Linked DNA regions of Homo sapiens. The protein of the gene in region 3 purifies or fractionates together with the protein of the main gene of each other region. This does not show direct contact. Each region holds a gene or a part of one and is shown on either strand. Other genes may lie near its edges. The genes, in order: GIT2, CKAP2, CAMK4 and FAM110C.

Evidence for each region.
Region 1: the proteins of CAMK4 (region 3) and GIT2 purify together in Homo sapiens (affinity purification with mass spectrometry; 2 studies listed by BioGRID and IntAct, with this or other methods). This does not show direct contact.
Region 2: the proteins of CAMK4 (region 3) and CKAP2 purify together in Homo sapiens (affinity purification with mass spectrometry; one large-scale study listed by BioGRID and IntAct). This does not show direct contact.
Region 4: the proteins of CAMK4 (region 3) and FAM110C purify together in Homo sapiens (affinity purification with mass spectrometry; one large-scale study listed by BioGRID and IntAct). This does not show direct contact.

What each region holds. Positions count from the first base shown.
Region 1 is NC_000012.12:109,976,717-109,984,531, reverse strand, and holds part of GIT2 (ARF GTPase-activating protein GIT2), read left to right. Parts: intron 1-837; coding exon 838-924; intron 925-1,028; coding exon 1,029-1,159; intron 1,160-2,005; exon of another isoform or gene 2,006-2,461; intron 2,462-3,352; exon of another isoform or gene 3,353-3,485; coding exon 3,486-3,580; exon of another isoform or gene 3,581-3,627; intron 3,628-7,815. UniProt on the Homo sapiens protein: GTPase-activating protein for ADP ribosylation factor family members, including ARF1.
Region 2 is NC_000013.11:52,451,332-52,459,665, reverse strand, and holds the start of CKAP2 (cytoskeleton-associated protein 2), read right to left. Parts: upstream 4,189-8,334; 5' UTR 4,110-4,188; coding exon 4,040-4,109; intron 3,679-4,039; exon of another isoform or gene 3,487-3,678; intron 3,144-3,486; coding exon 3,059-3,143; intron 1-3,058. UniProt on the Homo sapiens protein: Possesses microtubule stabilizing properties. Involved in regulating aneuploidy, cell cycling, and cell death in a p53/TP53-dependent manner.
Region 3 is NC_000005.10:111,224,519-111,232,333, reverse strand, and holds part of CAMK4 (calcium/calmodulin-dependent protein kinase type IV), read right to left. Parts: coding exon 7,690-7,815; intron 1-7,689. UniProt on the Homo sapiens protein: Calcium/calmodulin-dependent protein kinase that operates in the calcium-triggered CaMKK-CaMK4 signaling cascade and regulates, mainly by phosphorylation, the activity of several transcription activators, such as CREB1, MEF2D, JUN and RORA, which play pivotal roles in immune response, inflammation, and memory consolidation.
Region 4 is NC_000002.12:38,469-45,379, reverse strand, and holds the end of FAM110C (protein FAM110C), read left to right. Parts: intron 1-2,314; coding exon of another isoform or gene 2,315-2,421; exon of another isoform or gene 2,422-2,571; intron 2,572-3,074; exon of another isoform or gene 3,075-3,262; intron 3,263-3,752; coding exon 3,753-3,772; 3' UTR 3,773-6,566; downstream 6,567-6,911. UniProt on the Homo sapiens protein: May play a role in microtubule organization. May play a role in cell spreading and cell migration of epithelial cells; the function may involve the AKT1 signaling pathway.

The DNA.
Region 1 (7,815 bases), on a different chromosome or scaffold from region 3:
GAGGCTGCAGTGAGCCATGATCACTCCACTGCACTCCAGCCTGGATGACAGAGCAAGCGAGACCCTTTCTAAAAAGAAAAATGCCACCTTTTAAAATTTTTTTTATTTTTTATTTTTTTTGAGACAGGGTCTCGCTCTGTCACCAAGGCTGGAGTGCAGTGGCATGATCACAGCTCACTGCAGCCTCCACTGCCCAGGCTCAGGTGATCTTCCCACCTCAGCCTCCTTAGTAGCTGGGACTACAGGTGCGCATGCCACCACACCCAACTAATTTTTGTATTTTTTGTAGAGCCAGAGTCTTGCTATGTGGCCCAGGCTGGTCTCAAACCCCTGGGCTCAAGTGATCCTCCAACCTCAGCCCCCCAAAGTGCTGGGATTACAGGCATGAGCCACTGCATCTGGCCATTGTTGACATTTTTGAGATGAGGAAAGTGAGGTTCAGATTGCTTAAAGCCCTTTCTCCAGGCCACACAGCTTGAAGTGGGTATAGTTTGAAATTCAGGTCTGTCGTATGTCAGAGCCACGCATAGTCACCTCTTCACACAGTCCTGCCTCTCACTCAGGTTCTGGTTGTGCCACTTCTTAGATAAGTCATGCATTTGGGCAAGTCAGCCTTCACAGCCCTAGTTTCCTTATCAGTAAAGTGGCCTCACTCCACCTTACAGCCCAGGGACAGTTGTGACTGGCAAAGGAGAGACTGGTCCATGCACTTTACCGAGACAAATAAAGATTATGCGTTACTGATGTAACATATATTAAAATGGTCTATCAGCTGCCCTAGGACATCATTCTTTACACCTCTAACCACGATTCCTTTTTTGTTTCTGCGTTTTTCAGCAACTCCATTCGAGCGTGAGAACAGGGAATCTTGAAACCTGTTTGAGACTGTTATCTTTAGGAGCACAAGCCAACTTCTTTCATCCTGTAAGAAAACATGAATTGCTTCAGATATTGAAACTAAGTGAGTTGTGTTCATGTAGCCTTTATTTAATGTGCTCTTTTGCCTACTTTTTATTAATGATTCTTAGGAAAAAGGAAACACCCCACTCCATGTTGCCTCCAAAGCAGGGCAGATTTTACAGGCTGAATTATTGGCAGTATATGGAGCAGACCCAGGCACACAGGATTCTAGTGGGAAAACTCCCGTTGATTATGCAAGGTAAGAGACCTAGATTCTCGCTACTTCTCTCTGGGATTTTTTTGTTGGGTGTGATTCCTTGTTAAGTAGCTAAGTTGTATATGTTGATATTGAACCCCTTTAAAGATGTACGTTATTTTATTTTACAGATGAAGACATTTCAAATGCATATAAGCTCAGCCTGGCAAAGTTGAGGAAGGCTAGAATCATGAACCAGTGTGCTAAGCTTCCAGTCTTTTACTTGATCCTTTATAACACAGTGATGTTTGAGCTGTAGTCAGATTCCAAATCAAGTATCAAGAATTACAGAATGTACTCTTCTGTTTTTTAATACTCTTAGTTATTTCTTGAACTTAAAAGCAAATATATACATAGATATGTGATTAAACAAGTATAGTAAAAAGTTAATTGTAAGGTTTGGGTAGTAGACATCTAAGTGCTCACTCTAGGCCAGGCATGGTGGCTCACACCTGTAATCCCAGCACTTTGAGGGTCCAAGGCGGGTGGGTTACTTGAGGCCAGAAGTTCGAGATCAGCCTGGCCAGCATGCTGAAACCCTGTCTCTACTAAAAATACAAAAAAAAAAATTGGCTGGGCATGGTGGCAGGCACCTGTAATCCCGCTACCCGGGAGGCTGAGGCAGGAGAATCACTTAAACCTGGGAGGCAGAGGTTGCTGTGAGCCGAGACCATGCCACTGCACTCCAATCTGGGTAACAGGGCAAGACTCTGTCTCAAAAAAAAAAAAAAAAAAAAGTGCTCACTGTAAAATTATTTAAATTTTTCTTTATTAATAAAGTCCTTGAAAAATAAATCTATAGGTTAGTCTTGAATATCATTTAAATGGCCAAAGATCAGTCATCTTTCCTTCTTTTTCCAAAGTACTTTTATTAACTGTGAAGCACAATACTCTGTTCCACAGAGGATAAAATGGGTGAATAACAAAACTCTGCCTTCCCAGAATTTACTCTCTTGGAAAAGATGATTCATAAATGCCTGAAAGAGTTCAAGGAGGCAAGACCATATGGGATTCATTGCCAAAATAGATAATTGGTCTTAAAAAGCATATATAGGGTTTCTTCATTGTGGTCCAAATCATTTAAGAAATTTCTTCAGCTGGTCTTGAAGAATGGGTTGGATTTGAATGTGTGAAGGGAGAGCTGAAGCATTCCAGGTAAGAGGAAAGGCAGGAGTCAAGATCAGGAGGCAGGGAGGGACAAAGTGTGTTCAGCACAGCAGGAGACCTGACTGGAAAGAACAGAGTGGGTCTGGGAATAACAGCAGGAGTACAGTATTGCATGGTGCTTCATTATTTCACAGAGCACTAAAAAAGAAAAGAGTTCAGCCAATTAAATTATGGTGTATCATCAATTGTAGGACATTTCCTGATTTCACAGATACTAAAAAATGAAAATAAGATGTGCCTCTCACAAATCAAAGCTGTGTGGTAGGTTGAAGGGTGTTGTGAGTGCCTTGAATGGTGGGGAGAGAAGCTGGCTGAAACTATCAGGTTGGTGCAAAAGTAATTGCAGTTTTTGCCATTACTTTTAAGGACAAAAACCACAAAATATACTTGATCTTGGACGAGAGCCCTGGGTAAATGATACTTATTATCACTTACCTTGGAATTTTCGCACTTGTACCTTGCATATAATAATCTCAATATAATTTGTATCCTTGTTGCTGAAAGGATTCTAAGCAGCCTAAGTATTTATTTCATGGATGTTGAAAGGTAAACTTAATATTTTCTGTTGTGCAAATTGAAGATAAGGAGGCAGAAGTAGCTGCAGGCGTGAGCTGTGCGTTAGGTTGGCGTGTCTCTCACTGATTTGAAGCCTTTGAAGTGGTTACTAGACTCTTATCCAGAGTCAGACTGGCTGCATCAGCATCACCTAGGGGAAGGACCTTCTTCAACATATTGGCCCCTGGCCCCATCCTGTCCCCATTGATTCAGAATTTCCAAGGGTGGGGCCTGCACATGGTATATTTCTAGAAATGCGCTAGTTAATTTTTGAGAACTTCTACCGTAAACCATTGATTAATTTCATTTTTTTACCTCATTAAATTAAGTCATTCTGTATCCTTCCCTCTCATAAGTCTTTGAATTTCTTATTAAATATTCTATTTTGGCCTTAATAAAGGAAAGGCGATAGTTCAGATGGTGAAAACAGTTTATAAAAGTGGGATGCAAAGTAGACTTCAGAAATCTACCTACCACAAGAAGGTTGATGATTCTCAAAAGTCTTGTGTGATAAACTGCTCAGGTGTCTCAGGAGACGTCTTTGTACTCCATTTTAAAGTCAGTGAATAGTGAGCAATATAAATGGTACTTTGTTTTCTCTTGGTAGGCAAGGAGGGCACCATGAGCTGGCAGAGCGCCTCGTGGAAATACAGTATGAGCTAACGGACAGACTAGCCTTCTATCTCTGTGGCAGGAAACCAGGTGAGTGGATGGAGAATGACCGTTTCACATCTCCAGTTGGGAAGGTTCTAGAAAAACAAGTTGGGACACTATTTGTTATTACCTCCTCTGCTGTAACATATCACTGAGAAAGCTATACATATGGCTTTTAATTTGAAAGGATAACTACAGAATTGTCAGTTACATGTAAAAGATATAAAGTTGGACAAAACTCCTTAGATTTTTCATTTTTAATAGCTCTAGAGAAATGACTATTTCAAGAATCAGACTGAATAATCAAAGCAAAATTGAATGGGTACCACAGTTCTTGAACATGGTGGGACTAGGAATGTAGGAGCAAAGCAATAACCTTTGTAGTTATTTGAAAAATTCTTCTTAAGGAATGGAAAAAAAGTCCAGAAGTAAACTTTGCCAAAGCCAACTTGGCTATTTGTGATAGGGAACAGGGGTCAGCAAACCATGGTTTGTAGCCCAAATCTAGCCAGTTACTTGTTTTATTAAACAAAGTTTTGTATCGTGCCACTGCACTTCAGCCTAGGTGACAGAGTCAGACTCTGTCTCAAAATAAATAAATAAAAATAAATAAATAAATAAATAAAGCTTCTGCCGGGTGCAACGGGTCATGTCTGTAATCCTAGCACTTTGGGAGGCCGAGGCAGAAAGACTGCTTGCACCTAGGAATTCGAAAGTAGCCTGGGCAAGAGGGGTGAGACTCCGTCTCCACAAAAAAGTTTTTTAAAAAATCAGCCAGGCATGGTGGTGTGCGCCTGTAGTCCCACGTACTTGGGAGACTGGGACTTGAGCCCAGGAATTCAGGGTGGCAGTGAGCTATGATTGTGCCACTGCACTCCAGCCTGGGTGCAGTGACAAAGCAAGACCCCCAACTCTCTAAAAAATAAATGAATAAAGTTTTATTGCAAGAAAGCCGCGCCCAATTATTTATACCTTGTGTATGGCTGCTTTCACATAACAACAGCAGAGTTGAATAGGTTAAGTCGTTGCAACAGGCCAGATGGCCACAAAGCCTAAAATATTTACTATTTGGCCCTTTAAAGAAAATATTGGCCAACCCCTGATGTACAACATTCACATACATGTATGCAGTGATTCTCCATCCTGGTTGTATGATAGAGTTAAGAGCCTCTGGTATAGTTTCAGTTCTGGGTGAGATGGAGTAAGCACACCCCACCGTGTCTCCTGCAAAATAGAACTAACAGACCTGGACCAAATGCTTGGAGTAGCTAGCTAAAGACTCTGAAAAGTAAATCCTGGTTGGTAGATTAGGGAACTCAAAAGTGTCATCAGCTGGTGGTGAGTGTCCTGTTTGTCTTACTTCTGATAGGACTTCAATGACAGCCTGAAACCTGGAGGTACATAATGAGTGCAAAAAAGCCTTTTTCTGCGGGGTGCGGTGGCTCACGCCTGTAATCCCAGCACTTTGGGAGGCTGAGGTGGGCGGATCATGAGGTCAGGAGATCCAGATCATCCTGGCCAACATGGTGAAACCCTGTCTCTACTAAAAATACAAAAAAATTAGCTGGGCATGGTGGCAGGCGCCTATAGTCCCAGCTACTCGGGAGGCTGAGGCAGAATTGCTTGAACCCAGGAGGCAGAGGTTGCAGTGAGCCAAGATTGCGCCACTGCACTCCAGCCTGGGTGACAGAATGAGACTCCATCTCAAAAAAAAAAAAAAAAAAAAAGCCTTTTTCTGGTTAAAGAGCAGGAAATGGGACTTCTACAGGACAGAGAGGAAGGGGATTCCCCTGGGGTTTTTTCCTCCTCCTCCTTCCTTTTTCTGATCTCTCCCATCCAGCCCCTAGGCAAGCCTGTGGCTGCAATAGCAGCAGCAGCAGTGGCAGCACAGGTTCCTAAATCTCTGAGCAAGGGGATGAGGGGGGATCCTGATTGCTTGTCTTTTTCTCTCTATTCTCTCACCATCTGCCCAGGAGGCAGAACCTCACCTGGTCAGTTGCCTGCTAAGACAAAAATATGAACATTTTTGCATAAAGTTTAAAGAAGGCCCAGAGTCTCATAACAAAACATTCACAGTGTCTAGGATATCATCCATAATGACTTGACATCTGAGTAATTCTCATGTACTTGCCAGGGAAGGCAGCCAACAGATGCCAACCCCAAGATGACACAAATGTTGGCGTTATCAGACAAAGATTTTAAAGCAGCTAGTAAGACCATGCTATAAGAAGTAAAAGCAAACATTCTTGAAACAAACAGGAATATAGAAAGTCCCATCAGAGAAATAGAAGATACAGAAGAGAACCAAATAGGAATATTAGAACTGAAAAATACAAACACTAAAAATTTAAAACTTACTGGATGGGCTTAATAGAAGAATAGAGATGACAAAGAAAGTCAATGAATTGAAAACAGATCACTAGAAATTATCTGGTTTAAGCAACAGAGAGGAAAAAAGAGTAGGAAGAAAAGACTGAACAGAGTCTCAGGGACCTGTGGGAAAATACTAAAATGTCTGACATTTATGTCGTTGGATTCCCAATAAGAGATGAGAAAGAGTGGTGTGTGCAGAAAACGTATTTGAAGAAATATTGGCCAAAAAAACCCTCTAAATTTGGGACAGGCTCAATGGCTCACACCTGTAATCCCAGCACTTTGGGAGGCTGAGGCGGGCAGATCATTTGAGGTTGGGAGTTTGAGACCAGCCTGGCCAACATGGTGAAACCCCATCTCTACTAAAGATACAAAAAGTAGCCGGGCATGTTGGTGCGCACCTGTAATCCCAGCTACTCAGGTAGCTGAGGCACAAGAATCACTTGAACCTGGGAGGTAGAGGTTGCAGTGAGTCCAGATTGAGCCACTGCACTCCAACCTGGGCAACAGAGCGAAACTCCGTCTCAAAAAAAAAAAAAAAAAAAAAAAACCTCTAAATTTGGTGAAAGACATAAACTTACAGATTCAAGAAACTTAGAAAATTCCAAAGAAGATAAACTCAAATCCACAGTTGAGACACATCAAAATCAAACTGTTGAAAACTAAAGTTGAAGAAAACATCTTGAAAGCAGCCAGGAAAAAGTGACACATAACATATATAGAAAAACAGTGATTTGAATGATTGTGGATTTCTTATCAGAAACCATAGAGATGAGAAGGAAATGAAATAATACTTTGTTTGTTTGAGATGGAGTATCTCTCTGTTGCCCAGGCTGGAGTGCAGTGGTGCAATCTTGGCTCACTGAAACCTCCGCCTCCCAGGTTCAAGCGATTCTCTTGCCTCAGCCTCCTGAGTAGCTGGGATTACACGTGCCTGCCACCATGCCCGGCTAATTTTTGCATATTTAGTAGAGATGGGGTTTCACCATGTTGGCCAGGTTGGTCTCGAACTCCCGACCTCGTGATCCGCCCACCTCGGCTTCCCAAAGGGCTGGGACTGCAGGCATGAGCCACCTCACCCAGCCAGAATAATACTTTTATTATTATTATTATTTTGAGACAGGGTCTCACTCCATCGCCTAGGCTGGAGTGCAGTGGCGTGATCTCGACTCACTGAAACCTCAACCTCTTGAGCTCAAGTGATCCTCCCACCTCAGCATCCACAGTAGCTGGGACTACAGGTGTGTGCCACTGTGCCCAGATAACTTTTGTATTTTTTGTAGAGATGGGGTTTCACCATGTTGCCCAGGCTGGTCTTGAATTCCTGAGCTCAAGTAATCCACCCACCTGGGCCTCCCGATTACAGGCATGAGCCACTGCTCCTTTTTTATTATTATTATTTTTTCTCATCTTCTTTGTGATGGTAGAAACAATACTTTTAAAGTGCTAAAAGAAAAGAGCTGTGAACCCAGAACTCTATATCCAATGAAAATAACTTTGGAATGAAGGCAAAATAAGGACATTCTAACAGGAAAAAAAAGAATTATTCTTTACTTTAACAGAAATGCTAGAGAAAGTTCTTTGGGTGGAAGGGAAATGATGCCAGAGGGAATCTTGGAACTTTAGGAATGAAAGAAAAACAACAGAAATGTTAAAGATGTGGCAGAGTAAGACCCTGTCTCAAGAAACAAACAAAAAGTTGAAATTGTCATACATATCTTAAAGCTGTAACATTGTCAGCCAGGTGCAGTAGCTCAAGCCTGTAATCCCAGCACTTTGGCAGGCCGAGGCAGGCGGATCACCTGACATCAGGAGTTTGAGACCAGCCTGACCAACATGGTGAAACCCTGTCTCTACTAAAACTACAAAAATTAACCGGGCATGGTGGTACATGCCTGTAAACCCAGCTA
Region 2 (8,334 bases), on a different chromosome or scaffold from region 3:
ACATTAAAATGCGTGATCTCTCATTCTCTGAAAAAAAAAATGAGGCCAGGAACAGTGGGTCACACCTGTAATCCTAGCACTCTGGGTAGAGAAGGTGGGCAGATCACCTCAGGTCAGGAGTTTGAGACCAGCCTGGCCAACACGGCGAAACCCTGTCTCTACTAAAATCAAAAATATTGGCCAGGCATGGTGGCAAATGCTTGTAATCCCAGCTACCCTGGAGGCTGAGGCAGGAGAATCGCTTGAACCCACGAGGCAGAGGTTGCAGTGAGCTGAGATCGCGCCACTGCACTATAGCCTAGGCGACAGAGCAAGGCTCCGTCTCAAAAAAACAAAACAAAACAAAATATATATATATATATTTTACATTTGACATAATTTAGTAGTTAATAATTTTGCTTACATTGCCTTTCATATCTATTTGTTCTGTCAGCTTGGAGAAGGAACAGAACTTTGACACAACCTGTACTATACATTTTGAACAATGGTGAAGGAAGATCAAAATGTGCCACTTAACAGGGTATCTTAGTAGCTAACTGCCAGCTAACAAAACAAAACTCAGGATGACAAGAAGAACCCATCTTACTCACCTGTCCAGTGGGGAGACTTAATCCTATTCTGTCTTATTATAAAACTGCCCTCAGAAGGGTTATCGGAAATGAGTCTTAGGATATCTATACTTTAGAGATTGTAAAATATAACTGTTTAATTCTGAAAAGCTGCAACACAGGTTGGTTGTCTTATTTAATGATTCACTGCTGAGGTGATAACATTTAAATTGACATCTGTTTTCCTTTTTTTTTTTTTTGAGACAAAGTCTCGCTCTTGTCACCCAGGCTGGAGTGCGATGGCCTGATCTTGGCTCACTGCAACCTCCGCCTCCCAGGTTCAAGCGATTCTTCTGCCTCGGCCCTCCCCGGAATTACAGGCGCCTGACACCACACCCGGCTAATTTTTATATTTTTAGTAGAGACGGGGTTTCACCATGTTGGCCAGGCTGGTCTAGAACTCTTGACCTCAAGTGATACACCCGCCTCAGCCTCCCAAAGTGCTGGGATTACAGGCATGAGCCACTGCACCCAGCCAACATCTGTTTTCTGAAAGGAATAAATGTAGTACTTAAGCCACATGAAGCGTTTTAGAATTTTCTTTTCTTCCTATTAAGAGTATTATAAACCCCTGACCTTGTTGGATTCTTTATTTAAATAAGTGGTTGAGAGTCACTGTCTGAATCCATATTATCTCTACTTATTCCCTAGTAATTTCATTCCATCCTAAGGTTTTTAAGTAAATATCATCTGTATACTAATCAATTCCTGAGTTTATGCTTCCAGCCCCAACCCCTCCCCTGAACTTCAGACACACAATTATTTGGCATATCTGCTTGGATGTCTGGTTGGTACCTCAAACATAGTCAAAACAGAACTCCTAATTCCCCAGCTCCTCCTTCAGGCTTCCTATTTCAGTATACGGTTATCACCATTCATTTACTTATTCAAATAAAAAACCTAGGATCACCTTTTTGTCTTAAACAAAGAAATAAAAGATTTATTTGTGAAGGATAAACTGTTTATTCCAAACTAAAGCAACTTATTAATATAAAGTTAGAAATTATTTTTAAAATTTTAGAATGCCAAACTTACACAAAGTTGCAAAAATATAAACAGGTCAAAGAATATCTGTACACTCTTTACCCAGGATCCACCTATTGTTAAAATTTTTATCCCATTTGCGTTATCATTTCCACTCTCTGAATATGTGTGTGGGTGGTATATACAATTTTGTTTACCTGAGACAATTTTTTTTTTTTTTGAGACGGAGTCTCGCTCTGTCACCCAGGCTGGAGTGCAATGGCACGATCTCGGCTCACTGCAACCTCCATCTCCCAGGTTCAAGCGATTCTCCTGCCTCAGCCTCCCCAGTAGCTGGGATTACAAGCACCCACCACCATGCCTGGCTAATTTTTTGTATTTTTAGTAGAGACGGGGTTTCACTGTGTTAGCCAGGCTGGTCTTGATCTCCTGACCTCGTGATCTGCCCACCTCAGCCTCCTAAAGTGCTGGGATTACAGGTGTAAGCCACAGCACCCAGCCTAAGCCTGTAAGGATGTTATTACTGGTTATCCCTAGAGAGTGAGGGGACCTTTTGCCTTTCTGCTTCATCTACTTTCATGGGTTTTTGTTTTTGCTACAGCTATGTACTATCTAAGATATTTTAACAAAATAATAAAGATATTTCTGTGGAGGGTTGAGACTACAACTAGTAATCTCTAAGCATTTGGGAGGGCCACCCAACCCTTCCCTGATGAACTCCCCCATACACTGAGTAAAAAGCTTTGCTAAATAATAGAAAGACTGACCTTTGTGTGGTGTAAACAGTAAGTTGATAATCTAGTCTATGCACATACTTTGCTTTATAATTGTTTTTTTCTCTTAGACTGTGAATTAATTTACGTAGAAAACGATAATCTAGGCCGGGCGCGGTGGCTCATCCTTGTAATCACAGCACTTTCAGAGGCTGAGGTGGGCGGATCTCAAGGTCAGGAGTCCAAGACCAGCCCGGCCAACATAGTGAAACCCGGTCTCTGTTTAAAATACAAAAATTAGCAGGGAATGGTGGCACTTGCCTGTAGTCAGTCCCAGGTATTTGGGAAGCTGAGGCAGGAGATTCACTTGAACCCAGAAGGTGGAGGCTGCAGTGAGCCAAGATCACGCTACTGCACTCCAACCTGGCAACAGAGTGAGACTCTGTCTCAAAAAAAAAAAAATTAATAAAACGATGATCTAATGCTGCACCATCCAATAAAGTAGCCACTAGCCAATGTGGCTACTGAGTGCTTGAAATGTGGATAGACCAAATGGAAATGTCCTGTAACTGTAAAATAGACACCAGATTTTAAAGACGTTGTACCACAAAAAGACGTAAAATAATATGTAAGCAGTTTTTCTAAATGTGGCTACTAGAAAATTTAAAATTACAGATATGGCTTACTTTACATTTTCATTGGACAGATCTGATACAATTTTACAGAAGTGAAAAGAAATAAACTTGACCTTACCTGGATAACATCTCATTTTCCTGCTTGTATGCAAAAAGCGTTTTTCTTCTCAACAGATGTTCCTTGAGTTTTTGTCTTCTTTGCTCTAGATAACAAAGGTAAGAGCTACAAGTCAATATTAGTTAAAACATCGATAACGGCAAATAAATCTTGTTGACTAAATGAAGAGTTTACTTCCAAAGCTGGTTCCACCTGAGGTCACATCTATATAACAGAAAATTCTCCAATTCAATATTGCCTTTGAGAAATCACCTTAGAAGAGACTGTTACCACAACAGGTCCCCAAAACCCCTCTGCATAAGAATCACATTCTCTACTCCCTGTGAAAAATCTGGAGAACATCATTTTCTACATACAGCTCCTGCTAGCCAAGCTTTAAGAAACTAAATGGTAGAAGTGAGGCACTAGACTCGAAAGTTCTAATTTACCAGAACTGGGTTAGATGAGAATTACTTTCTTCTGCTTTCCCGTGTGTAGAATAAGGGAATAACAATATTAGTTTTGAAGACCCAACCAACCCTCGGTTTCCATAAAGTCGAAGGAGAAGCTGTGAAATTGGAAATAACACATGATGCGACCCCAGCCCTGCAGAAATTCGCTAGGGACCTAAGAGGCGGAGGACCCAGCGCAGGCGCAGTCGGTCCCTGAACCTGTGCAGCCCCGCCCCCAAGCGGACCCAGGGTCTCCGACACCGACCCCGGCCTGAGGCCCGCGCGTTTCCCCTCGCCTAACGGATTCCTTCTTAGGAGGGCCCATCCCAGCCAGCAGCGACCGCACAGTAACACCACGCAGCGGTTCCTGTTTTTATGATCCGTTCCACAAGGCCAAGAATGAGGCAGGGCGAGGCCGACGCCGCGTTCAGGGATCTCACAGAGCGGGGGAGAGGTGAAGCGCGCCAGCGCGGCCCCGAGCCCCGACCGCCGGGCCCGCGCCCGCCACCGCCACCGCCACCGCCACCGCCACCGCCACCGCGGCCTTCACCTTTGAATGCGGACTGCGCCCTCTGACTCGGGGGCAGCTGCAGGTCCTGGGGCACGGCCGGTGTGCTCATCGTAGCCTCGGGTCGGGGGATGCGTCTCCGCTTTAGCGCCAAGATAGAACTTCCTCAGACCACCGCCGCCGCAGTCTGCACCGCGGCTAAGCCGTCAGACGGCGCGGCTGCCGTCTCCGCCCATTGGTTCCTGCGTGAATTGAATAAGCCAATGGGCGTAGGGAGGCGGAGCCTGGACTGCAGTTGCCGGGGCCGGTCTGGTGTCTGCCCAGTTCGGTTGGGACTGAGTCTGCAGGTTTCAAACCTAAACAGCGCTCTTCATCCTGGACGTGCGATGGGGGAGGAGTCGGCCTGCTCAGTCCCCACGACATAGCAGGACTAGGTTGACAAACAACCGAGATGGGACACATCTTGAGACCCTCACAGTCCTTGGAGGAAGGCAGACGAGAAAAAGACAAGAAAAGTGTTGATTGGCTGCCCTTCTTATTAAACATCGACGCGTTCACTGACGAGGACGTAAACACCGATCTGGCGTACCACGAGCGTGTGTATTTTCGTTTCACAAATACTGCTTCATTTTGAGCATCAATTCTGAGGTGGGACGTTATCACCACTTTTTCCACTGAGAGGTGACAGGTTCAGAGGTTGTTTGTCCACGTTTGCACAGCGTGTGAAGGGGAACTGAAATTGGGATCTACTTTCCATACCTTTATTCTAAGCAATTATCAAATGCAAAAAAGGGAGGAGAGGAGGAGAAACAGAAAAAAATGAAGATAAACCTCATCCCCTCCTCAAGGTTATATATAATTCTCCTTTGAAGATAAAATAGCATTTGTTACAGACGTTTTGTGTTTGTGTGGTTAAGTGTGCCGCCATAATCTTCGTTTTTCTCATCTAAAAATACCACCTTCATAAAACCCACACAAACACTCAATCCACATGACAGAACGAAACAAGTCAGGGCTAGAAGGTTTTAAGAGTGGCAGTGGGGAAGTGAGGGCGAGTCTGGACTGCACCTGCCTGGTTTCAAGCACTGGGTTTACATTTCTTGCCTGATCACTGCAGTAAGGCTGGACTGGACTCTTTCAGCCAGGTTTTAGGTGCTCCGGGCACACAGACGGGAGGATGTGATTTCCCCGTTTACCCTTCCCAGGTCTGAGGGCCTCCACAGCTGGCCCTCGGCTGTGGTCAGTTTTTCCCACTTCTGCCTGCTTTTTTCTTCAGACATCTTATGGTAGCGTCTTGCTAATGAGGAATTTGGTTTGAGATTTTGTGTAGTTTTTTACTTGATGAAATGTCCCAGTTTTAGTTTAACATTGTCCATCACCATCCTTAAGATATAACTTGCTGTTTAAATACGTCTGTCATTATTGTTGATTATTTACTAAAGTTTCATCAGACAGGTGGGGCAACCAGGGATTTCTATTAAGTGAGAACAAAATACAGCGTTAATAAGTGACTCAAAAACCTCCAAAACATTATGCTAAGTAAAAGAAGTAATATATGAAAAGTTACATATGGTATGATTCCATTTATATGAAAGATCTAAAATAGATACATCCATAGTGAAATAACTCAGAATAGTAGTTGCCAGAGGCTGAGGGTAGGGGGAGAATTGGGAGACAGTTTAATGGACAAGGGTTTCATTACCTTGAAGTAAGTGAAATGTTTTGGAATTAGAGGTAGTGGTTGGGTGACATTGTAAATGTATTAATGCCATTGAGTTGTTCACTTTAAAATGATTAATTTTATGTTATGTGAACCTCAATAATTTTTTATAAGTGGGCATGGTAAAAAAAGAAATTGACTCAAAGGATACCATGGAGATCTCAGTAGGCTGAGATGAATAGGAAAACCTGCCAAACTGCTAGGTTTTTCAAAATGGCAATTCTCCTCTAATCTCCAGACTCACCCACTCCAATGATATGTCTATTTTTGAGACACTTTTTAATATTACTGCTACACAATTATTGCAGAGAAAGCAGACCTTTTTCTAAAAGATCCAAAAAACAAACAAAAAAAACAAAACAAAAAAGATTTCCTTTCAGAACAGTTCTTTGCCAACACAGCTGACCATGAAACTGCAGGCACCTGGAGTACTGATGATTAATTAGTGTTAGTCGTTCCTCCTGTGGTCATGTGAAGAAGGTAAAGTGCCTGTGAGAGAACAGGGAAGGACAATCTGAAAGTTAGGAGGACAATGGGGACACAATGGGGTCACAAAGTCTGGGGAAGAGAGAAGCTGAAGAAAGAGGTAATGGACCACAGTGTTGGGCACTACAGAGGTCCAGTAGGATTGGGACTGAAAGGAACCATCTGATTCAGAAGGTGGGAGGTCCTGGCAAAAACATCCTGGGGATGGCTGGGCGTGGTGGCTCATGCCCGTAATCCCAGCACTTTGGGAGGCCAAGGCGGGTGGATCACCTGAGGTCAGGAGTTCAAGACCAGCTTTGCCAACATGGTGAAACCCTGTCTCTACAAAATATACAAAAGTTAGCCAGGCGTGGTGGCAGGCACCTGTAATCCCAGCTACTCGGGAGGCTGAGGCAGGAGAATCGCTTGAACCCAGGAGTCAGTGGTTGCAGTGAGCCGAGATTGTGCCATTGCACTCCAGCCTGGGCGGCAGAGTGAGACTCTGTCTCAAAAAAAAAAAGCATAGACCTAAATGTAAGAACCAAAACTATGAAGCTTCTAGAAGAAATTATAGGAGAAAATCTTAGTGACTTTGTGTTAGGCAAAGATTTCATAATCAGTATCAATATCTGGTTTGTGGAAAAAAGATTTCTTAAATAGGCAAATTCCATGAACTATGAAAGAAAAAAATACACTGAACTTCATAAAAATTAAAACCTTTTGTCTATTCATTTATTGCCATATATAAGCCACATGACGTTTCTCCTTGCTCCAGCCTGGATACAGGAAACCCTTATACGGTTGTCTATCCCAGCAGCTATCATATGCCAGGCTTCTATTTGTGTCCTACAGACTGTACATCCCTCAAGGGCAGAAAACATACCTTGCAAATGTCCTCACTGCCTAACATGTTGATAATTGCAAAGCCCAGGCATAACTGCACAGTTCCACATCTGATTAGGATGCTTAGGTCACATTACTTTCAATTAAAAAAGACTAAAAAGTTGGTAAACAATCAAATGCTCAAAAATCAGGCAATGATGGTAAATTGTGATATATATTGATAGCATATTACAGCAAATCAAATGTTTTCAAAGAACTTTTGGTTATTGGGTATATGGTCATGATGGAAATTGAAAGATATGAAATACAGAAGACACTGTTTAGAAATAGACCAAAATACACACAGGATTTTGGAACACGGTAAAAGTAGCAATTCATTTCGGGGGAGAGATGGCTTATACTCATTGGAAAGAGCCTTTCCTTTCTTTTAATGCCTAGCCACAGACCACTGACTCCACGACTGGGGGAAATGTGGAGCCCTGGGGGCAGAGAGCAAGCCTGCCCTCTGTCCCTCTGCCCCTGTGCCCCTCTGCCCACGTGGGCACGCAGCCTTAGTTAAGACCCCAATAAGTGGTAGGCTCTCTAAAATGTGTTCACAACCTTTAAAGCAGTCATTCTATTTTAGGAAGACACTGTAAGAAAATAATCCTAAAGAGAAAAATATGTATCAATTGTAGAAGGACATCTATAAGCTGCTCCATTTATTTATTTATTTATTATTTATTATTATTATTTTTGAAGCAGAGTCTCGTTCTGTCGCTCAGACTGGAGTGCAATGGTGCGATCTCGGCTCACTGCAACCTCTACCTCCAGGGTTCAAGCGATTCTCTTGCCTCAGCTTCCCGAGTAGCTGGGATTACAGGCACCCGCCACCACGCCGGGCTAATTTTTTGTATTTTTAGTAGAGACAGGGTTTCTCTATGTTAGCCAGGCTGGTCTCGAACTCCTGACTTGTGATCCGCCCGCCTTGTCCTCCCAAAGTGCTGGGATTACAAACGTGAGCCACCGCGCCCGGCCAGGTGTTCCATTTATAAAGCAAAATACAAAAATGAAATGGCTAGGGGCACGAGGCCGCCTGGTGGGTGAGAGCAGCGGCCATGGATGGCTTTGCGCAGACCAACAAACAGCTAAATTATAGAGGAACTACATATTGAAATGTAAATTCACGCATGAGGTCTGTATTAATATTGAAAATGCCTAAATAAAAATAATCTTTTTTTTCTGAGCCTGGGGGTGGGGGAGTGGAGTGGCGTGGGGGAGTTGGGGTGGAGGGGGAAAGGGTCTTTCTATGTCGCCCACTGGTGTCAAA
Region 3 (7,815 bases):
ACAACTCTGTCATGAAGATGGCTATTGTTCTTAGATTTCTAATAAGTTTTATTCATTTTACTTATTCATTAATTTATCTTTTATTAAATATATTGTTGGTGCCTTATTAGTAGTACCCTATGCACTTGGAGGCCAAATATTGATTTATCATGCTCATTTACACTCTAGGCCCTTACCCCACCACATGCACACTGCCAGCATACATCGTCTAGGTCAGAATTATTGAAAAGCTTAGACTTATAAACAAGAGGACTTTAGGTAGCACAAACGCATGGAATTAAATAACAAGGAATAAAAGAGAGAGCGAGAACATCCTTTTCTTTTCAATTACTTTTCAATGATTCTGATTACATCAAGAAGAAAACTTCAATTTGTGCTACTCTGGTTTTAACTCTGCTAATCTTTGATCATCTCTTTTTTAAGGAAGAAATCAGTCCTCAGAGTTACAGCCTTCTGCATGTGGACAAGTCTAGCTATAATTTACTAAAAATGTTATGTTTCCATTACAATTTATTTTTACAATTTGTTTCTATTTATGGCATATACAATTTGCTTTTATTCACAGTTTTCAATTTAGTGAAAATTGTATTCTTGGTAAATAAATTTAGGTTAACAAAATAAGGTAATTTAAATAAAAATATTAAGCAAATAGCAGAAGTGGAATACACATAAAACAGAAATCTTATGGTAATACATAGAAATGGGAGAAACATTTGGTTGTAGCAGATACTCAGTAAAGCCAAATTAACATAATCTATCAATCTCCTTGTTGTTGTTCACTATCTACATAACTGAAAGAAAATGTGTAAAACACTAGCTTCAAGACATGATTCTCAAGAGGAGAGAGGGGACACATTTGACAATGTTTAGAGACAGTTTTGGTTTAACAACTTATAAGGGTGTCACTACTGGCAGCTAGTAGGTAGAGGCCAGGGACACTGTTAAACATCCTACAGTGCACAGGACAGCCCCCACAACAAGGAATTTCCTGGGCCAGAAGTCTATAGTGCCTAGATTGAGAAACCCTAGTCTAAGAGAAAAGAGGAAGGTCTACTTGCATTACCCTTTACCCATCACTATGAATCACTGTCTCTCCAGACACTGTTCTTTTCTTTATTTGATCTTTACCACTGACAAGATAATGACTGAGGAAAATCTCTGACAAACTGTATTGAAGGGTCCACATCCTTTATGTGCTAATACTATGCCTTCGATATTTAGACCTAACTTCCTAATTAAACCATTGGAGTCATGAAATCTTCAGATAATCCTGTACTACAAATAGATCAAGAAAACTGAGGTAAAGATCAATATAATTTGAGTAAAACCTTGACTCTAGCTGCTATCAACTTCATGAAAAGTTCCTCTTTGTCCTGAATTACATGGTTCCTTGCCTCAAACACCATATTTTGCAGTATGAATTTGACCTTGAAATTTTACAAAATCAATATTCTGTTTATTAGATACGTAGCTTTCCCAAAAGAGTTTTTAAAAAACCCTTTATTTTTTTTAAAAAAAAAGAGGAAAAAAAGAAAAAAAATATTAACAAAAAATAACTAGTAGTTGAAACACTTCACTTGGCTAACACTACTTTGTTCTTAAATGTATTACTGCAAACACATAACCCACACATATATGTCTGAGGGTAAAGTGTTTACAAGAAAGTTCTTTGAAGCTATTTTGTGGTTAGTGTTCTTTTTCTCTCTCTCTTTCAAGTTCTCCAGAACAGTTTAGAAGCAGATGGCACCTGTGTCTTTTTTTTTTTTTTCCCCCAAAATCTGGAGTTATTTTTAACCTTGTGACAGTATTTAAACATGGAAAAGTAGTGTGCTCTTAAAGCAATGATGTTATCGTAGCCTTCACTTGATTTTAAGGTTTTTACAGTGAGTATATTTCCAAATTTAGCATTTACTATGCATTAACTTTAGTGGATGGTATAGCTTGGAGGCATTTCATGCCTTTTAGTCCAACTTGATTTAACTCCTAATTCTGATACACCTGTGGTAAAGTGACAGTGAAGGTGAAACTGAATCCCTTTCATTTCAGAGCCACAAAACACTCTGCCAACAGAAAAGTGACATTATTTTTAACAACAGCAAGCTACAGAGGTGGCAGCTACCAATACTCACACTGAAGAAAGAAAACCAATGCTGATTGAGATTAGGGTTATTGTCAGGCAAGTTTTAGGGAGAAGAGAAAAGGGTTACAGTATTCTCCTTATCCTAGGGTCACTAGAATCAATATCACTACGACATCAGGACCAAGACCTCAAAGAAGAGGAAGCGGGTACACATGCTGCACCCGGCCCATTTCATTATCATTGATTCACCCTCTTTAAAATCATTTGTTGAGTACCTGTTAAGTACTAAGTGCTCTGCTAGACATGAGCACATAATAGTGAACCAGCCAAACCCACAGACTCTGCCTTCTGGAAGCTTACAGTCAGTGTTCCTGGGAAGACCCTATGAAGCCCCAGTTTTTATTCTCCCACTTGCAATCCCACCTTGCTCCTGAGTCAACTGCCTGAGAAAAGAATCAGATGCACAGAGAACAAGACAGGGTTGGCACAAGTATATTTTTAATTCCTAGTAAGATAAAAAAACCTACCATCCCCCAAGAGCTGGAGCTTCTAAGTGCAGTGTGTGTAGCAGGAGATCAGAAGCCAGCAGTATACCTACCCAGATAGGCCATGGGGCCCTAAAGCATGGTGTCGGAAAAAATCAAGGATCTAAGAAGCTCTGGTCACGAGAATGGTTTAGGAAATTGGTTGACCAAAAAAAAGGAGAATCTGTTTCTTCAGCAGCCATGCTGTGGACTGAATTGTGTCCCCTCAAAATTCACATGTTGAAGCCTTATTCCAACTCCAATATGATGGTATTTATAGGTGGGGCTTTTGGAAGGTAATTATGTTTAGTATGAGGTTATGCAGCTAAACCCCTCATCGTGGGATCAGTGCACTTGTAAGAAGAGGCACCAGAGAGCTTGGTTTCTTTCTCTCTTCCCCTCTCTTTCTCTCTTCCTCTCTGCCTTGTGACGACACAGCGAGAAGGCAGCCATCTGCAAAACAGAGAGTCCTAACTGAGGAAATGCATTGGCTGGGACCCTGATCTTGGACTTCCTAGCCTCCAGAGCTGTGAGAAATGCATATTTATTGTTTAAGCCACCCAGTCTAAGACATCTTGTTATATCAACCAGAGCCAAGAGCACTAAGACAAGCCAAGAACATTGGCTGAAGCCCTTCTCTTAGAAAATGCACGCTTTCGTGTTTCCTTATAGAAAGCATTTGCTCACTGTGACCTGGAGCCAGAATACATGTTACCATGTAGAATATACCACTTCTCAGTCTCTGAGTTCCTTCCCAACACAGCCCCTGGCACTCTTAGCCAGTTCAAATTACTGTGTGCCCAGCAGACCTTAGGGAGACACCAGAGTTTTTCCAAAATGTTTAGAAGGGGAAAAATCAGTAATGACCTGGAGGCAAAGATAGGAGCCTTTTTCTCTACAGGGCTGTGCCAAAAGGATACCACCCAATGTTGCCAATTGGTCTGCAGGGAATTTCTTTAAAAGACTCTGCCTCATAGCTTAATCTATCACACACAGATTTATGGCCTACAACAGCACTTTTCAAACTGAATCACAACACATTAGTGGGATGTGAAATCACATGGGTTCAGCCAAGTTTTTTTAACAAAATAGATGAAATCAAACAGCATATAATAGAAAATATTAAAGTGCATTGCTGGTAATAAGAATAAACACTGTTTTATGAAATTGTTTCTGTTTTATACACACACACACACACACACACACACACACACACACACCCCTTACTATGGAAATCTATTTGGTTCCTAAACAATAATACATATAGCAAGGGATCCTATATAATTAGTTTAATTGAGTTGACAAATAAATGTATTTAAAATTATAAATGTATACACATAATTGTGTTTACATAAATGTGACACATAAATGTATTATTTAAAATTACATTGCAGTGGGGAGGAGTATGCAAAGTGCCTAGCCTAAAGAAACTACAGTAAGTGGAATGGGAACTAAATTTAAAGAAAAAAAAGGTTCCAAAATAGTTTAACACATTCTTCTCTTGTTCTAATTATCTTTCATTTGGTTTGGTTTCCTTGGATTTGTATGTCTGGGAATACATCTGGTTTTCTTATCATCTTTTCTTTCAACATGGAACAACAGTGAGAAACTAAAGGTGAGACAACTGAAAACAGGACATGGGTTTGCATGCACAGACGAAATCTGCACCACCAAGCAGGCTGGGCCATTTCCTGTCATTCCATGTGCCAAACCACTGGGCGGGATCTGGACCAGAGGCAGCTCCCTTCTCCCTCAGAAAAGCCTTTAAAATGCCAGTTTCTCAAATCACTGGGCAAAAGACCAACTGCTCTCGAGGATCTGGAGCCCTGAATAGGATCATGGCCAATTCGTATTTTTAAGTAGAGTTGAATGTGTGTGTGTCATGATTTTTGTAAACTTTTTGAAAAACTCTATGAACAAAACAGTGTCTTCAAATGTGATTTTAGGAAAATTACTTTGCCTGATACTTTTAATTCACCCGTAACCCCTATACTCTATGCCCTCCCTGCCAAAAGAAAGTGAGCACATCTGTCTTGGTCTCAATGGCTCCATGTGGATCAGTGCTGCCAGCACCTGCCTTCGCCAGCACTATCCAGGGGCTTCAGGTGGATATAGCCTTGGGAGTTTAGCTCCCCTTGAGTTCCCAAACACATCCTCAGGGTGTATCGCCCCAGTGGTCACCGTCCAATCTTCTTGCAATCAGGAGTCACTACTTTACAACAGACAACTGTAATGGAGGAGCCAACAAATCACTAATTCTGGTGGAGACTGTCTACTTTCTAGAGCTAACCACAACAGCAACACGTAACACCAGAAGCACTGTTCTCTTAGTATATTAATGACAACTGCATTACTAATGAATTAGAGTCACACTAGCAGGTGGATTTGGTCCAAAGCTGAGAGTAAAGGCTTGAAACTGATGACCTGAGTTCAACTTGATCTCTAGTGTAGGAAGAAAGAAGATTTTAGTCACTCAGCCAATATCTACGATCATCATTCTGTTGCATTCTCTGGCTCTATCGATTCTTAATAATTATATCTAGAATAGTAGTTGATGTTTTAAGTTTATTTACTTAAAAATTTCTGATAATGAAAATGATACTTCTCAAAGTCTCAGCCAGAGTAAGCATGCACCCCACGAATGCTGCCATGTACAGAAAACTTACCTAACAATACGCTTTACTGCTGACAAACAGAGCCTAAGTAAGACATTTTAGCTTTTATTGTTCCTCAATGTAGTTTAACTCTGTGATCTTTTACAGTAATCATAAGACTAGATAATAGAGCGAGAATCTTAGCAATGTATAGACAGAGGGTCTCCAATAGGATGGGCTTAACTTACAATTTTTCGACTTTTATGATGGTGGGAAAGTGATAGCATTCAGTAGAAATCGTACTTCAAATTTTGATCTTTTCCTGAACTATACATGGTAGGATACTCTCTCTGATGCTGGGCACCGGCCATTAGCCACAGCTCCCAGTTAACCACAGGAGGGTAAACAACCGGAACTCTAGAGTGTTCTCTGTTGTCAGTGTTTTTTGAATATTGTGTTTTGTGTTTCATATCTCACCATGTCTACAAAATCCCATCTGTACACGGTATTTAACAGTTATTATAAAATAGGCTTTATGTTAGATGATTTTGCCCAAATGTAGGCTAATATTAAGTGTTCTGAGCATGTTTCAGGTAGGCTAGGCTAAGCTACAACGTTTGTTAGCACAGGTGTAGTAAATGCATTTTCAACTTCTGATATTTTCAACTACAGTGGGCTTATTGGGACATAACACCATCATAAGTTGAGAAGCTTCTGTATAACCGATTAATATTTGTCCTCCAAAATTTACTGCAACACGTAATTCTGAACTGAAAAATAAAAAACCCAAACTTCAAATTTCTCAGTTTTTTCCTATGCAGGCTACCATCTCATAGGGGTATACAATTGGCAGTTTATTTTTTTCCCATTTTTCAAATTAAAGTGAATTTCTTGAGTTTCATGACGATGAAGCTTATTCATAAAGACAACGTGTGTGGATAAGTCAGCCTATTTGAGGCATCTAGGGTTAATGTTACTCTGAAAACAGATGTGCTACTGGGACAGTCCCTGCAGCAGCATCAGGCACTTCCTCTACTACACAGTAGTTTATAAAACACCCAGTAAACAATTTTAAGTAGATCATCCCTTTACTCAGAGGTTTACATGGTTCCACTGTCACGCATCATACAATTAATAACAGGCATGTTTTGGACCTTACAAAAATCGACATCATTGTCCTTTCATTTCCACCTATATATATAATAGATCTTCAGATGAATACTGAAAAACTTGATCAAAAATGGATGTTTATGTATACATTATTCAGTGCTCAAATACTTCAAAACATTTTTAACAGTGACAAATCACTGAATTTTCATTCAGAAGTTTGCCTATTTTACACATCTATATTCAATGAGCCTTCAATAGTACTAGCAAAGTGGGGGGAGAGTGGGCAGTGATCATTACATCTTCCCACTAAATACCAACATCCAGAATCCTGCTCTGGATCCTCCAATGACTTGAAAAAATAAAAAGGCTGTTAGCAATACTATTTCCAGCAAAAAGAGAATGAAAAATGAAATTGCAAAGGAGTAGTAAGTACAGAAGCTGCAACTTGTCAACCGTTGAAATTACATCTTCAGATTCCCTATACTAAAGAGCCTGGATCTAAAATAAGTGTTGAAAATAAATCTCCTTACCTATGGATAACAGAGAGAAAAGACAAAAAAAAAGGAAGTAAGGGAAAGAAAACTATAATTTTCAATGGATACAAATACGAAAGCATATGGAATCATGCAGAAGGCCAAACTGCTACCTGTTTGGATCTTCAGAGGAGGGATAGGGGACATATCTGCAATCCTAGGGAGATGGTCTGTTGCATATATAATTTAAATAAATCACTCCAGCCCATGAAAGAAGGGAAGCAGCAGCATTCTCACTAATTACCACTGCCTGGATCCCATATGCTGCTTTCTCTTTAAAGCCACACTAGTTCATTATTCTGCCTTCAACTCTCTTAAATGATTCATTTCTCCCTTCACTCCTGAGCAGACTCTGCAGGGAAGCTAGTATTTAAGTTTAATTTCTCGTGTCACTTGCTTTGGAGAGCTTGACGAGGGGAAGGAGGAGGAATCTAACTTAATAATTCTGTCTTGATTTGGAGGGGCACCCTCCGGCCCCCACCCTAAACAATAACTAGACAAACAGGACCCTCTGGCAAGCTATAATCGTGAGCAAAGATATCAATTGGGAAAGCAGGGCCCACGTGCGGTGGGAGCTGTCACCCAAGGGAAGTGGCAGCCTGCGAGAAGGAGGGAAGGTGGGAGGGAGTCGGGCTGATCCTACAGCTGCACCGGCCTAGGCGCTCTGGTGGGGTGGGAAGGACTCGAGCCGCACCTGAATGAAGGTTAGCTCTCTCTCAAGACACTAACTAGGTAGGGAGAAATCGAAGGGCACGAAGGCAGGCTCCCGCACCCTCCGAGCCGTCGCTGCGAGAGGGACAACCCCCAGTGCACGCCGCGGGCTTCCCCAGCCGGAGCCCGCGCCTTACCGTCCCAGCTCCGACTCCACCTCGAAGAAATCGCTCAGCGCATCCCTGTTGGAGCCGTCGATCCAGTAATCCGGGACGAGGCTCGCGGTCCCCGGGGCCGCACTGGCGGTGACCGAAGAGCAGGAC
Region 4 (6,911 bases), on a different chromosome or scaffold from region 3:
GTGTGACCGAGCTGGGCGATGGCCAGTTACAGCTGCTTAGAATTGAGTGCGATTTTGAGCTACAGTGTGAAAGGGACCCAAGAGACTGACGCAGAGGCTTGTGAGTTGAGCCCCCGCTGCTGAAGAGCAGAAGGTACCAATCCAGGCACCTGCTGGTCCAGGCCCTTAGGAGTCTGCTGCGTCTGGCTGCCTGGAAAGGCAATTCTGCAAATTAATATGTCCCATTTGGCTTATTATTGTGAAAACAGGAGAAATCCAAAATGCTGCCAGAAAGCAGTTTTACACCCCTAGTATTCTTTCCTGAGCTGAAAACAGCTTGAGAGCCCTAGTTCCTGAGTTCATTGACCTGTGCTGTGGGCGGTCCTGATGTTTGATTGGAGCTGACCAGTCCACCTGCAGCCCTAGGTAGGCGCTGCTGTGTTACTGGAACAGAAAGGAAGACTCCCTGCACTTTCCTGGAGGCCTGTGCTGAAGTGGTGAGAACTTCTCCACAGGATCTTGTAGCACTTTGGCATTCACTTAGCAACAAAGATCTTTATTTGGCTAAATTTTATTTAAATTGTTTTGAGAGCTTCAGGTTTTTAAACTGGGGAAATTGGACTAGATTGTAACTAGAGTCTATAGTTTATTTGCCTCTGATGACACTACAGGAAGTAACCTCCCTTTGGACAACCAGTAGTGCCGGATTGACCTCGAGCTCTTTTTGCTTTTCACTGGGGAACTGAGGAGTGCTGGTCTTCACTGTTACCTGCTCTTCCCTATGGGCGTCTTGGAAAGTAGTGAAGAGAAAGAACCTTTTCAGGGCTGTCTTTGAGAACGAACAATTTAAACTTTGCGACATCTTTTTTTTCCTCTTACCCTTCAATGACAACTTGCTATAAGTAAATTTTAAAAATCATGAGATGAAATTATTTTCTGCCATTGTGATAAACTAAGTGAAGATGCATGGCAGCCTGTAGAGTTTGGGGGAGGCTGCCCAAGAGATGTTTGCACAGGGCTCACCTATGTTTGACAGCTAAAAATATCTCCAATAATTTCTCTGGCTATGACTTTAGTACAGACATGAAAATTAATGAGAAGAAGATAATTCATTCTTTTTCTTGAACTCAGAAGGCTCAGGACTTAAGTTCTTCCTTATAATTTATAGAAGATTTGTGTTTTCCACTAGCCTAAGTTCCCAACAAATATATATAGGCAAAGTTCTAAAAAGCAAACAAACATTAATTTGTAGTTTTCACAAATTGTCTTTTGGATCTGAGATGAATGAATGCTGGCAAGGGTATTTCCATGATGGCACCATGTGTAGGGCAGGAGCTTTGGAGAGTGGCCAGGTCCGTGGAGGGACAGTGTCTGGTGGATAGAGCACTAAACCAGAATTAAGGGCCTGTCTTATGTTAGCAAATGATTCCTGCACTATAGACCAGGCGTCCTTTGTCCATAAAAAGAAGGGAGATAGGCGGATGGTTTTCAACCTCTACATTTTCTAGTCTGTGTAGTAATAATCTGTGTTGCATGACTGAAACCCAGAAATGGAAAACAAACAAAAAAAAGTTGTCTATTGAAGTACGTGAGAAGTAAATTTATGAATAAGCTCCCTCCAGGTAGCCATAGCATGTGCAGGCAGTAGGTAGACTTGGTGGTATAAATAGTGGGGAGGTAATAATGTGGCATACAAATGAAACCAAAGTAAAACCTGACAACATAAAAATAAAAGCAGCCTGCTCTGATCCCTCCAGACCCAGGCTGGTTCCCATCTCGAATTAGCCAATGTCAAAAGAGTGACCTGAATGAGAATTTAGTTGACTTCATAGACTAAATCCTAAAGACCTTTTAGGCTTGGACCTATGAAAAATATAAGAAGTTTAGTTAGCTTGTGAGAACTTTCACTTTTATGACAAAGAGAAATAGTTGAAGGAAGAGGGAAAGTGAGAGCAGGTTTGGGAAGGCACTAAGGATGGAGGCAGGAAAAAGGCTCATGGGCTTCTTCCTCCCCTCATGTCTCCCTCCACCTGAATCCCGTTTGTTCCAGACTGGAGACAATGGCAACTGTCTTCTGAGAAGTTTCACATTATTTCTCAGAGCAGGGGTACAGTCCCACAGAAGCTACCCCAGTTTTTATATGGAATTGGCAGTCACCAGCACTATAAAGATTTTCTTTACTAATGTACTTCCCTAGACCCAAAACAGCACAGGCCTCTTTGAAACTGCAATGCAGAGACTTACTGCCCGGCTACCAGGGGTGGGGTGTATGAGGAGAACAGAGTTGCCTGGGCTTTCTCCAGATCACCGGAACAGTGTCTGCTCATGACCTTAGCCCCTTCACAGCTCCCCACCTCCCAGCACTGGTGTTCCCACTGGAGGAGACCAGCAGGGAAAGCCACGACAGAGTGTGAACACCTGGTCAGTGGGGCGGTCCTCTGACTTCCTGCAGAAGTCCCTTGTTCTGAGACCAGTTCTGCAACTTCTGGAAGATGTGGAAGCAGGAATTTAAGCTGTGCTTTTTCTGCTGAAATTTATAAGGATTCATTTTAGGATTTCTTGAAAGATTCAGAAAACTTGAGACGAACAAAGGTAGGTTTTCTAAGTGAAAGAGAAAACAAATATATTTGGAGGTTTTTGTCCTCTTGGTAGATAGAGATTTACAACTTATAATAAAAGTGTCTCAATTATAATAGAACTAAATACGTTTATAAGTTTCTTGCCCCATGGGGTAAAGATAATTGCTTTTCAAAACTGAGACTATCACAACTGGGCAATGACTCGTATAATCCGCACACAAGTCCTCTGGGGAACCCATGAGCAGTAGTTGGTTGTACATGGGTAATTTTGGTATTCTGTTTCCCAGAGCTTAGTTTATGAAAATATCTCTTTTATCTGCTGTGATGTAGTCATCTTCCTGTCTTTCAATTCATCAAACTAGGGACTTGTCAAAATTTAGATCTTTCTGGTTTTCTGTTTTGCGTAGAATATATAAGTTGCTGCTTTTAATACTGGCATAAATAACTTGTCCTTTGGGAAATTAGGCATAAAACATTGCTTAATTTCAAGGCAAAAATGTTCGGACAATTCCACAGCTATCTTCACATTTATCCTTGACACAAAGAAAAAAGAAATACCTGTAGAAGCGCATCGAAAGCTCCTGGAACAGAGTTGTGTCTCATATTTGCAAAGATGCAGAAAAAATAAACCCGGGACATCCAGCTTTCTTTTCCTTTCTTCTTTGACTATTCTGAGAAGCTATGCGACTAGGAGCACATTTTAGGTAAACACGTGGCTTGAGTAGCCATAAGGCCACTCTTCCCTGTCGTGTGACCCGCGCCTGGGCCTTTAAGAGATATTGGTGTTTGAAAAGGGAGGAATCTGTTTGCCCTCAGATATTTAGTTCAACTGCCTGCATTGCTTCCTATTTTGTTGTCCAACTCTGTAGTAGTTAGCACTGGCCTTACCAACATGTAAAGAAATTTTCTTTACTGCCCCATGAGTAGTTGGAGGCAAAGAGAAATTTTTAAAGCGCAGAAAAAGGCCTGCAGGGAGATGGAATTTGTTCTGCCAGAGAAACGAGATGATAGCTGTATTTAATAAAGTTACTGACCTCTTGTCAAAATTTAAAACGCAAAAGAAGATGTTTCAAAATGCAGAGAATGTCAGAAAACAAAAACTACAGGGACCAGACCAGTATAATGTTTAGTTTTCATTATACTAACTTTTGTCTAGACTGGAGTTGATTCACTATTTTTTCTTTAACTCCTCAGGAAGCAAACCTTCCCGATGATGAAGACTTCTTGAAGGATTTCATGGGTGATTTGGGATCCCAGGACCATTTGGCTAGTGTGCCTAGGTGACCACATGATTGCTGTTTTACCAGGAATGCAGCATCCCATTGACAAAACAAGTGCTCTGAGAAGGTTTAAAATACTACAGAGAATATGGGAACACAGACCTTGAAATTTAGCTGAGTTGTAACAGCTGAAACTCCAAGAGGTGTCTTCCTTGTTTGAGGTGAAACTAGTGTTGCTTCCAGAGGGCAGCTGGAAACCGTAAAGCTGTTTGGAAATCTTTTTGACTGACTTGCTGACAAAGAGGTACTGTGATGCATTTTAACAATATCTAAGTTGATTTTTTTTTAAATCAAGGAAAATAAAAACCAAGCATGAATGCTATGGTATGTGCCCCTTTTGACCATCCTGGGCTGATTAACATCATTTAAATCAAAGTAATCATAAAAAGGCATATTCTACTTCAATTATGTGGTCAAATAAGAGTAAACACACACACTCACACATGCTGACCCCAATTGCCAGAGCATTACTGCACTATAAATTACGGTTAATTCCCAAATTATACTACTGTTTATCTTATTTAACAAGTCAGAAAGCACTTTTAAAATAACTTGAGGGCTACAAGGTCATTCTATTAATGTCATTCTCCATTCGGGTTGTAGGCATGTGGAAGTACCCATTAAAAGATAAGTTAGAGTTTAAATACTGATAAACAAAACCTTTTATTGCAACTGGACAGTTTCTGGAGAGTTAGCGGAAGAATCTTGGAGTTTCCTTTGGTCAGATGAATACAACATTTCACTTTTGCAGCACTATTTAGAATGTACTCCATGGTTCTCTTGTTCCCAACTTCCAAAAAGAACAGAAAACTTTGGTTTACACAGAACACGGGCATCTGAGGCAGGACCTCTTCCCTGCCCTTTGATCTGACTCACACCTCCACATATGACGTAATCAACCCAAATTTGACACCAATTCACTCTTTTCTGCAAAGGGCATATTTTGAAACAAGGGACAGCCTGAGGGCGGCTATAATGAGAATGTTCATGGGGGTTACTGGGTCCCTAATTCTGAACTTGCTTATGACACCCAGAGTGAATAGATTCAGATTCAGAACCTTCTGAGAAATAACCCAAAGAAAATTTGTTACCCAGCCAATTCTTCGAAAGCTTAATATCAAAATATATCTTTTCAAGAAGAAAATCGTTAGAGAGAAGAATGTGGAGGGGAGAGAAATGGGTTTCTCATTGATATGATATTTTGTTAACCATTTCATTTTGAATTATTCAAGTTTTGGTTAATATTGTATTCTTTTTTCGTAACTATTTTACCGTGAGAGTAGGTCATTGGGTTACTTAGATATTTATTTTTACACAGTTATTAGTCTTCAGATAGTTTTATTTTACTTCATATGATTTTAGTTTTTGTCAGTATAATTTTAAATCATGTTTTTCTTGGTCATCTCTTTGTGTATATTGTGTAATTGGATTTTCATTGACTGCAAGTGGAGTGTTTGCCACTCAATTCAGTACTCAGTACTATGGTGACTTGTTTTCAAATAAGTCTCAGATACACATTTAGGGAGCCTTTGCTGGCCGAATATAGACTCTGTCAGGACAGCAGGTCCCCTGATCTAAGAATTTTCCCCAATGGTTGCTCTAAAAATGCTGCTATTTTGCTGTTCACTGTATTGCACTTAGTTAAAAAGAAGATAATGTGAAAGATGAGAGCAGTTTTTTAAAGGATCTTTTCATATACCCAATTCCCTTATTTTCAGATGTCCCATCAATTTTAGATATGAAAGCTTTAAGTAAAAGTGTGTATGCCTTTCTACTGTCAGAACAGGATGGATGCAGCCTGGGTCAGATTTATTTAAGATAAAAATCATGCAGACTCATCATTCATATCATAGGTGAAAAATGTAAAAACCAAATGGTTTCCACTAAAGCCACCAAGATCTTTTAGAAATGTTTGCACCTTTGGTGGTGGCACAGGAAAAGAGAAGAATTCAGCTGGAGTGAATTCTAGAAGTAGATATCAGAAACGGGGCATGAAGAACAGGGGAACTGGGTGGCATCAGACTCCTAAAGAAGTGAGTTAATTTTCCTTCCCTTCCATTCAGATTCATGCCACAGCTCCATATCTTGAGTATGTGTAAGAGGTGAGTTCCTTCTTCAGCCAGGGGCGGTGGCTCATGCCTTTAATCCCAATGCTTTGGGAGGCCAAGGTGGGAGGATCACTTGTGCCTTGGGGTTCAAGGTTGCAGTGAACCATGATTGCACCACTGCACTCCAGCCTGAGTGACAGAGCAAGACCCTGTCTCTAAAAATATATATAAAAAGTAAAACTAAAGAACTTCTTGCCTAAACCTGAATTACCGCAATTTGCTGAGTGACTTTGAGAAAAATCAGACTGTTTAGTTCAGTCGGGATGAAAAGCTTGCGATTGCTTCCCACAAGAATGGGCAATAGTGACGGCTGCAAGGTACTTTTATTTGTTCATGAAAGAACGACAATTTTTCAAAATGTAATTAAACATAATAGAATGTTTTAAACTACTGGGCACTGAAACTGGAAGAAAAAGGAGGCTTTATTGAACATTCCCCTTTTTCAGTTGGTTCAAAGTTCAGCACTGTGGTTATCATTGGTGATGCCAGAAAACATTAGTAGACTTAGACAATTGCTATGGCAGTTTCTAAACAGAGCTTTTTCTATACACTATTTGCAACTGGAGTGCAATATTGTATATTCTGTGTTAAAGAAATAAAGTATTTTTATCATTTATTAATACTGATTTATGAGTTTGAGTAATGCGGCAAAAATTTGAAATGAGAGTCTGCTCATTACAGTTCCTTGTCTTCTGTTTTTCTCCCTTTCTTCTTGAGTGTTCTCTCATCAGCTTATCAGTAGAAATGAGGGGAAGGCATTCCAAGGCTTGTCCTAGGTAAGTTGCATGGCACCTGAAATCATCGACTTTCCTCAAGATGAAATGCAGTCAAAGCAATTTTGAATATTCTGAACTTTGCTTCCCTTCAATTGTTTTTAATTGTTTCATCAGTCTTTTGCTTAAAATATTTTTCTTCATGTTTTATTAACATTGTCATTGGAAAATGAATGGGCACAAAGATACAAA